Regions from separate parts of the Homo sapiens genome. Here region 1 is linked to region 2. Evidence: fine-mapped expression QTL. A gene starts in region 2. The other region holds a variant in brackets. All regions are shown on one strand. Distances are between the middles of the regions.

The links. PIP is the estimated chance that this variant, and not a neighbour inherited with it, causes the effect.
Region 1: its variant is fine-mapped to the expression of HHAT in prefrontal cortex (BrainSeq, PIP 0.95).

Annotation. Positions count from the first base shown.
Region 1 is chr1:210,402,900-210,407,295 of GRCh38, reverse strand. It overlaps HHAT (hedgehog acyltransferase), which reads right to left. Exons shown (of 12, transcript NM_018194.6): 6 at 2,617-2,832. Among named protein-coding and RNA genes, the nearest start is that of HHAT, 76 kb to the right of the region's middle. The variant C/G (reference allele first, on the strand shown) is at 2,767.
Region 2 is chr1:210,326,296-210,330,691 of GRCh38, reverse strand. It overlaps HHAT (hedgehog acyltransferase), which reads right to left and starts at 1,790. Exons shown (of 12, transcript NM_018194.6): 1 at 1,588-1,790. RefSeq lists enhancers at 1-101, 1,214-1,573, 2,448-2,617 and a silencer at 1,734-1,983.

The sequences.
Region 1 (4,396 bases), 77 kb before region 2:
CATGCATGCATTCATTCAAGCATTCATTCAGAGCAAATCTTACTTACTAGTTCTTCCAACTAGCTTTCTTTCTCCACCTCCCAGCCTTTTCCTTTTTGGCTTCTCTGAAAGAACCCTTTCACTGCAAGATAAGCTTTTTGGTTTAACCCCCTGCCCCTTTAAAGCCCCCTTCCCCACAGAAGGGAAGTTCCCCACAGCCACCTTCAGCAAGTGCAGAAACCTCCTGGCTTTTTAAATTTGCCCTATATCTTACTGAACATTTATCCTTTTCTAGAATGACTATTCTATGAATACTCCCCCAAACATAGAGGTTTTAATTTGCCCTTTCAAGTTCCCTGCTGTCAGCAATTGCTATTGTTTTAGAAGGGGTTAAAAAAGAAGAGAGAGAGAGGGAAGGAAAAGACATGGATAAAACCCAGAGTGTCTATACCTGGCCCCTACAGGAAGCAACCTGCCCCTTCACTTCCCCAGAATGAGACTCAAGAGAATGAGAACCCTTGGCTAAGGATTTAGGTGGAAGATAATCTTAAAGCGTGCCTCTGTGTGACACAGGACCCTGCTAGAGGCCTCTAATATTCTTACTAGACCCTAAAAGGCACAATTTGAAAAGGGAGGCCAGGCTCAAGCCTGTAATCCTAGCACTTTGGGAGGCTGAGGGCAGATTGCCTGACCTCAGGAGTTAGAGACAAGCCTGGGAAACATAGCAAAACCCGGTCTCTACTAAAAATACAAAAAATTAGCTGGACTTGCTGGTGCATGCCTGTAATCCAGCTACTCAGGAGGCTCAGACACGGGAATCACTTGAACCCAGGAGGTGGAGGTTGCAGTAAGCTGAGATTACACCACTGCACTCCAGCCTGGGTGACAGAGTAAGACTCTGTCTCAAAAAAAAAAAGAAGAAAAAGGAGATGAGAAATAACAGAAACAATTATTTTGCATAATAACAAAGTACAGAGCATACAGGCAAAGCTTATATACAGGAGGAAGTTAGGAAAATAATCTGTTTCCTTCTAATGGATTTAGTTTATGTTTCTCTGAAAATTACCAGCCATCCTCAGGAGAGGGGTGTCTGTGTGTGGATGTTTGGTCCAAAAGTTATTGGCTGGCAAACTGAGAATAATTCAAAAGTTCACAAAGGTAAGGAGATTGTAAAAGAGAGGAACCCACCCTATGCTGTGCCCACCTTACCTTTACTCCCACCCTCCTCCTGGAGGGCCTGTTAAACCACCTTCCTGGGCTTTATCCCTAGAGGCTGTGATTCAGGAGGTTGGAGAGGACCTGAGAATTTGTATTTCTAACAAGCTCTCTGGCGATACTGATGCTGCTGGTCCAGGAACCACACTTTGCAAATCATTGAGTTAGAAGATCAGCTGCCATCATTAAACCATCTCTTTTACACAATAATTTTAAACACAATTTCAAATGCAGATTTTAAATTCCTTCATGACAAAAGAACGATCCCAAACCGAGGTATGAGAAACCATAGACTAAACATATCTGTCTAGAATATCAATTTCACTTACAGATTTCTAGAGATATAAAAAGTTACATACTTTCACTGGAAATTTTAGAACATTATGTTATTGTTATAATGCAAAAATATATTCTTGAATACAATGCATAATTCAGTGGAACTTTGAGGACAAAATAAGATTTCTAAGAACCCTCCTTTTTCAGGGAGCAACTTTCATGTTGCTGCCCAGAAATGTGCAACACTGCTGCTTGCCCTGCCCTTCCAGGTGTGTGCGTATGCGTGGGTATGTGTTCTGCGTGTGCATGCATGTCTGTGTATGCACGTACATGTTATTTTCTCCTCTATGAGGATTGTTTTGTTGGTGAGGGATAGAATATCCCTTGAGAACACTGTTTTAGGCATTTTCAATTACTAATTCCTTAGGTGAATTAACTTAGCAATTATGTTCCATGAAACTAGAGGTAGGTTGAGGAGGCAGAAAAAAAAGAAAGTTCTAAACAAGGGGGAAAAGTGAAGTAGGGGGGAACAACAGAGGTAGCTTAACATGGCATTTCAGACAAGGATGCCGTCCGAGGAAGGCAGGCGGGGGCCTGGGCACAAAGGGGGATCCAGACATGAACACACACCACTGCCTTCGAACTTACTTCAACTCCACTCTGTTTTCACACCTAGGTCACCCTGAACAGCTCCCAGGCTATGGCAGGACTATTTCTTAAGCAGCTTGTGAATATAAAAGGAAACATACTATTTGCCAAGCAACAGCTTAGACAGTTTCCTTTTCTATTCCTTCAAGTAATAGCATCATAATCAAATTTTTTTCTTTCCTTGGGACTTTGCCACAGTGGATACCAACTCCCAAACTCCTTGTTGTGCCCTACTCATTAATCCTGGTTGCCAGAGTTCACTGAAAATCAAGGTGGGACCCCCTAGAGCTGACATATCTGATGGGTCAAACTTTATTTTAAAGGCTCATTTCTCATATGTATTTCATCTATTACAAAAAACCTCATGAGAACTAATAGTATGTGTTGTAAATCTGTGGGCACCTCTGAACAAAACGACTCAAGAGTCAGAGAAGACCAGAGCAACAGCGACAAAGGCTTAAGCTATAGAATCCCAATCCCATCCCCAGCGGGCTCTACCTGTTTGATGAACTCCGAGAAGCTGAGGATGGGCCCATTGTGTAAGACTGGATAATAAAAGACATAGGCCAGCATCCAGGGAAAGGAGTAGGAGGTCGATGCAGCAGGCAGCTGCTGCCAGCAGAGCTCCAGGCTGAAGCTGGTGTAGTA[C/G]AGGCAGCGAACGGTCAGCGTGAACTGCAGCAGGTAGTACTCGTTTTCTGTCTTGTACCACCTTCTCTACAAAATCAAAAGGAGAGAACAACCTTTGAGTGGCCAGCAGGGACATCGTCCAGTCCCACTGCAGGTGCTGGCCAGCAGGGCCACCGTCATCTGAGAATCCCAGGGGGCTCTGGGAAGGCAATTTCTTCTTCAGGCAGAGCAGCTGTGCCATAAAAGGCAGTCGAGAACCAATGAACACCAGGTAAATCTCATTGGTAATCAAAGCAAGCAGTTAATGAGCAGTAGGAAAAAGGACATCTCTAATGTTAACCTAGCATTAGGTCTGACACAACATAACGAAGGTTTTCCCAGTTAGGCATGTATCAGATACATCCAGGGCATAAGGTGCAGATTAGCTACATCCAGTGGATACTTTGACAGCTTCTTCAACAATTCAGATAACAAAGAGGGGCTTAAAATGTCCCATGGGATTTCTGTCTTCAATGTATTTTTCGTTTTCCTCTTTTGTTATCAGTTTGGCTCTACATTTAGTTGAGTAGCATTTGTCTAATAAGCTTTACAGACAAATATTTAAAAAAAAAAAAAAAAAGTCCCTGCCCTCAATATGTTAAATTCTCATACAGGACGTAGATGTGTAAAAATGCAATTACAATAGAGCATGAAACAAGAAATAACCTGTGCAAAAATATGCATGGAACAAAAAATGAGAAGGAAATACAATAAAATGTTAATATCGGGGAGTAAAATTATGAAGTATTTTCTAATTTCTATATTTTTCTACATTTTCCATGTTTTCCAAAAATACATTTAGTGAGAAAAACTATTTATGGAAATACATACGAGAAATAGAACTTGGGTCAAAGGAGAAAGTAATTAACTTGATCCATCAGGGTCTCTTAAAGCTGTACACAGAAAAACCAACCACTGAACAGAGTTTCTACTTCTTGTACAAGACTTTAGCAGCCACCAAGGGAAAAGAGGATAATCATATCAGGAGAACCACATGTGCAAAAGCATGGAAACCCAGCTAGTTTCTAATCACATGATCTCCTTCCTCAGTGTTTTTCAAATCACTGTAAAATTTGCAGAACAAATGAACATTTATTCACCTCCAACATCTATAACTGATGCTAATTGTCCCCAAATAAATGATAAATGGAATTAGATTCTGTTTGTACACTTGCCAGGTCCCCAAAAGGTTAGGTATGAGCTTGTTTTTATTTTTACTGTAAATCTGTTTTTAAGCACACTTGCCTAAATGGTTGCCTAATCATTCTGGGAAGTATCTTCATTAAAACGGAGTGATTATCTGATATACTCTCATAAGTCCAGATTTTGACATACGTGCTTAAAATGCTAGCCCCACATCATTAATGAGAGTGAGAAAAATGAAGGTAGACTAAAAACAGCAAAAAATACTTGAACTTTCAAAATGCTACAATTTTCACAAAATCACTTAACATAGATTATCCCGTTTGACTCTCAGAACAATCCCATGAGGAAGGAAGAGGATTTATTACTTCTGTTTTCCAAATGATGAGATTGAGGCTCAGAGGTTAAATGACTGCTCCAGCTTCAGAGTAGGAAGAGATGGGGAATAGAATAGACTAGGAACCAGGTC
Region 2 (4,396 bases):
CCTGGGCCAGGTCCTAAGCTGGAAGCAGGGGGTGCAGGTAAGGCCCATGCTCGCAAGTTCCTGATGCTACCTACAGAGCTCCCACCAACATCTGGCCACCCACAAAAACGGCTGCTCCCTCCAAAGAATTGACTTTCACCCTAAGTTCATCCATCTAACCTACTTCCAAGGAGGGGGCAAAGTAAACAGTAGATAAAGCACAGGCGTTGATCCAAAAGAGGAGTCCAAAACCCGGCCCTGACATGTACTAGTTTGTGGCTTTGGCTCCCCTCCAAGGCTTTCTCTATCCTACTGTGAAAAGAGATAACAACACTTATCTTTCCCAGTTACTGTAAGGTTTAGAAATAATGTATCTAAAGCACCTAATAAGCACACAGTCTCCTTAAATTAACATTAATTGAATCTCTCAGGTCAGAGCTGTCCTTATCAAACAATCACAATTAGGGACTGACTGGCAACGAGAAAGGAGGGAGAAAAATCACAGGGAAAATGGAACATGAGGAATGGAAGGGGAAAAAAATCATTCCTCAAAGTCTCCTTCAATGAACTACCGCCTCTTCAATGAAGCCTTCCCTCTCCTCTCCTTGCATTCCCATAGCACTTAATCACATTGAAATAGGTCCTTAGCTCTGAGAATGAATGAGATGCCAGGCACGGTGGCTCACGCCTGTAATCCCAGCACTTTGGGAGGTCGAGGTGGGCAGATCACCCGAGGTCAGGAATTCGAGACCAGCCTGGCCAACACGGTGAGACCCTCGTCTCTACTAAAAATACAAAATTAGGTGGGCGTGGTGGCGCATGCCTGTAATCCCAGCTACTCAGGAGGCAAGGCTGGAGAATCGCTTGAAACCGGGATGCTGAGGTTGCAGTGAGCTGAGATTGTGCCATTGCACTCCAGCCTGGGCGACCAGAGCGAAACTCCGCCTCAAAAACACAAACAACAACAAAAACAGAAAGAGAAGCAATGTCTCACTCCCACGTAATGCAAACCTCTGAGGATGCCAAATGCCCTAGCCCTACAACCCTGATCCAAGAGCAATGTACACAGGTAGCAGCACATTTCTTAACACCAATGCTACCCGTAAAGTACCTCTGGTGAGGATTAGCGGGAGGGTTTTTCCGCATAAAGACCTGCCACCTGAAGGTTAGACTCAGAACAGAGGAAGAAAACTGAGTCCTGAAGATAGAACGCAAAGGAAGTCTCTAACTTTAGAGTCCCTGGAGTCACAGCAGGCAGGCAGGCGCACCGCCGATACTGCCAAGAGGACCAGAGTTCGCAACTCCCCGCAGCAGTTCCGGAAGCTGGGGACGAAGCCAAGGAGAGAGGACGTGGGCAGGGCCGTGCGCGGACTTGTCCCGGCGCCTAGATCCCCGCCTTTGCCCGGGCGCACTGCGCGCGCGGCCCCCGCCGCTTTTGTCTTCTTCGCCCGACCGGGAACTTCCTCTGTCCCGCCCTCGGGCGCGCACACGGGAACTTGGGTAGGAAACGGAAAGCGTTTTGTGCATTTTTTTTTTAACAGAGTAAACTGACGCAGAAAATTCAGCATCTAACCTCCCCAGGACCCCCTATGGTCACCAGTTACCAACCTCCGGGCTGTCCCGGGCGGCGGCGACGGCAACGTTCACGCGCGCCGCGAGTTCCCAACACCCCTCTTTCGGCACTTCCGAGTCCCAGCGACATCGGCGGCGGCTGCGGGCTTCCCCGGGACGCCACCCTCTTTCCCCCGGAGCTGCCCTTTGGAGGAGCAGCGCAGCGCGCGTCCTCCGAGCACGCCCCTGCCGCCGTGCCCGCGCGCCCTCCGCGCCCGGACTCGGGAACCCGCGGCGCTCTCCGGGCGATGGCGAGCAGGCCGTGCTGCTGCAGGGGGCGGGCCAGAGCGCGGCCTGCGTTTCTGAACCGCGTTTGCCCCGCCGGCGGCCCGGGGCCCCTAGCCCCGCTCACCCCTCGGCTGTTGGTTCCCACTGACCCTGGCGTGCATATCTCTCCCCCACCCGTGTGTTCATTGCAGGTCTGGGGCTGCCTGCAAGTTAATTGCAGAGTGGAAGTCACCTGAAACTCGAGGTGGGCCGTCATTCCAACACCAGTGGTCCCCACCTACGTTTTGTAGGCGAAAGGAGGTAGTTCGGTGCGGTGGAAAGAGGGTGGGCTTTGCAGCCCTGGCAGCTTCGAGGGCTTACTGTGTGAACTTAGCCCCTGTGAGCCTCCCTGTACACCTCTGTAAAACAGAAATAGACTTCCCTGCTTTTCTTTGTAAATTAGAGTGAAGATCAAATAGAATAAACTTTATGAATTGTAAAGCAACTTACAGAGATCACTACTGCAAAATGGGTACGAAGATTTTGATTGCGTTGTGAAAAGAGTGGAAGATCTGAAGATGCTCCAACGGGGTATAATTGGGACGATGTTGCTGCTCGGAGGCCTCCAAGCCTGAGCCAAGAGACAGGCTTGCCAGAGTTCTCCAGACTTATCTCAGCAGAATCACGTGGCTCTCATTAAAACCTCGGGCTTCTGGATCCCTCCCCAAACCAAAAGCATCAGACTGTCCATGGCAGGGGCGTCTCAGGTGGTTCTATGATAAGGTGAAGGTGGATAACTCTGCCCTAGGCAGCAGGGAAACTCGGAAGCTGTGCTCTCAGAAATTTCATCTAGCAGTCATTGTAATGGTCGAGAGGATTATTTTAATGATTTTAGAATTCTCCAGGAAACCAGAGTATGAACTCTCCAAGAGCTGGAGCTATCTTTTCTTTCTGCTTCCCCCCAACCCACTCACCCCAAAACCTGGTACTGGATGGTGTTCAGTAAGCAGGTGTTAGTAAACTAGCCCCAAATAGGAGTGCCAGATTTAGCAAATAAAAATACAGCATACTCAATTAAAATTGAATTTCAGGCTGGGCGCGGTGGCCCACGCCTGTAATCTCAGCACTTTAGGAGCGGTAGCAGGAGGATCACTTGAGGCCAGGAGTTTGAGACCAGCCTGGCCAACATGGTGAGACCCCGTCTCTACTAAAAATACAAAAATTAGCCGGGTGTGGTGGCCTGCACCTGTAATCCCAGCCACTTGGGAGGCTGAGGCACGAGAATCGCTTGAACCCGGGCGGCAGAGGTTGCAGTGAGCTCAGATCGCACCACTGCACTCCAACCTGGGTGACTGAGCCGGACTCTGTCTCAAAAAAATAAGTAAATAATTTCAGGTGAACAATATGTAACTTTTTAGTATCACTATGACCCATGCAATATTTGGGATATACTTATTTTTTTTAAGTACTTACAGGAAGCTTGTAATCCCAGCACTTTGGGAGGTCGAGGTGAGTAGATAACTTGAATCCAGGAGTTCGAGACCAGCCTGGCCAACATGATGAAACTCCATCTCTACCAAAAAAAAAAAAAAAAAATGGTATATCTGAAATTCAAATTTACATCCTGGGTATCTGAAAATCAAACTTAACTGGGTATTTTATCTGTCAACTCTAGATCCAAGGGTTTGGCAGAGGGAGTGGCAGAATAAGAACTCAACTCAGGTAGTGTCAAACTCAGGGACAGGGATGTGATAACAGCTCCTATATTATTTCTAAAAGATGCTGTTGTTAATATAGGTTCAGTGTGATTTACACTTAACCCCTGTCTACATATGCACTTTAAATTCACCGGCGAACACAAAGGAGATAAAGGCAGATTTAAACACAGGCAATCAGAAACATCAAATAAAAATAGCCAAAATTTATGTGTGTGTGTATATATATATATATATATATATATATATATATGTATGTATTAGAGACAGTCTCACTGTGTCACCCAGGCTAAGCACAGTGGCATGATCTCAGCTCACTGCAGATTCAAGCAATTCTTGTGCCTTAGCCACCTGAGTGGCTGGGATTACAGGCAAGCACCAGCCACCACACCTGGCTATTTAGTAGAGACAGGGTTTTGCCTTGTTGGCCAGGCTGGTCTCGAACTCCTGGCCTCAAGTGATGCACCTGCCTCAGCCTCCCAAAGTGCTGGGATTACAGGTGTGAGCCACCATGCTTGGCCATAATAGCCAAAATTTAAAGATAAGCAATAGACTGGGATATTTGCAAGAAATTTGCAAAGTGTTAATTTTAAAATTATATATAGAGTTAATACAATCAATAAGAAAACATTAGAAATCAATTATAGATGAGCAAGACACATTTATAGACAACCCACTAGAAAAAGGAGGAGGGAAATAAAAGTAGGAAACAAAAATATATTGCAAAAAGCTCAATGAAATGCATAGTAAAACAAGAACATGGTGGCTCACGCCTGTAATCCCAGCACTTTGGGAGGCCAAGGTGGGTGGATCACGAAGTCAGGAGATCAAGACCATCCTGGCTAACGTGGTGAAACCCCGTCTCTACTAAAAATACAAAAACA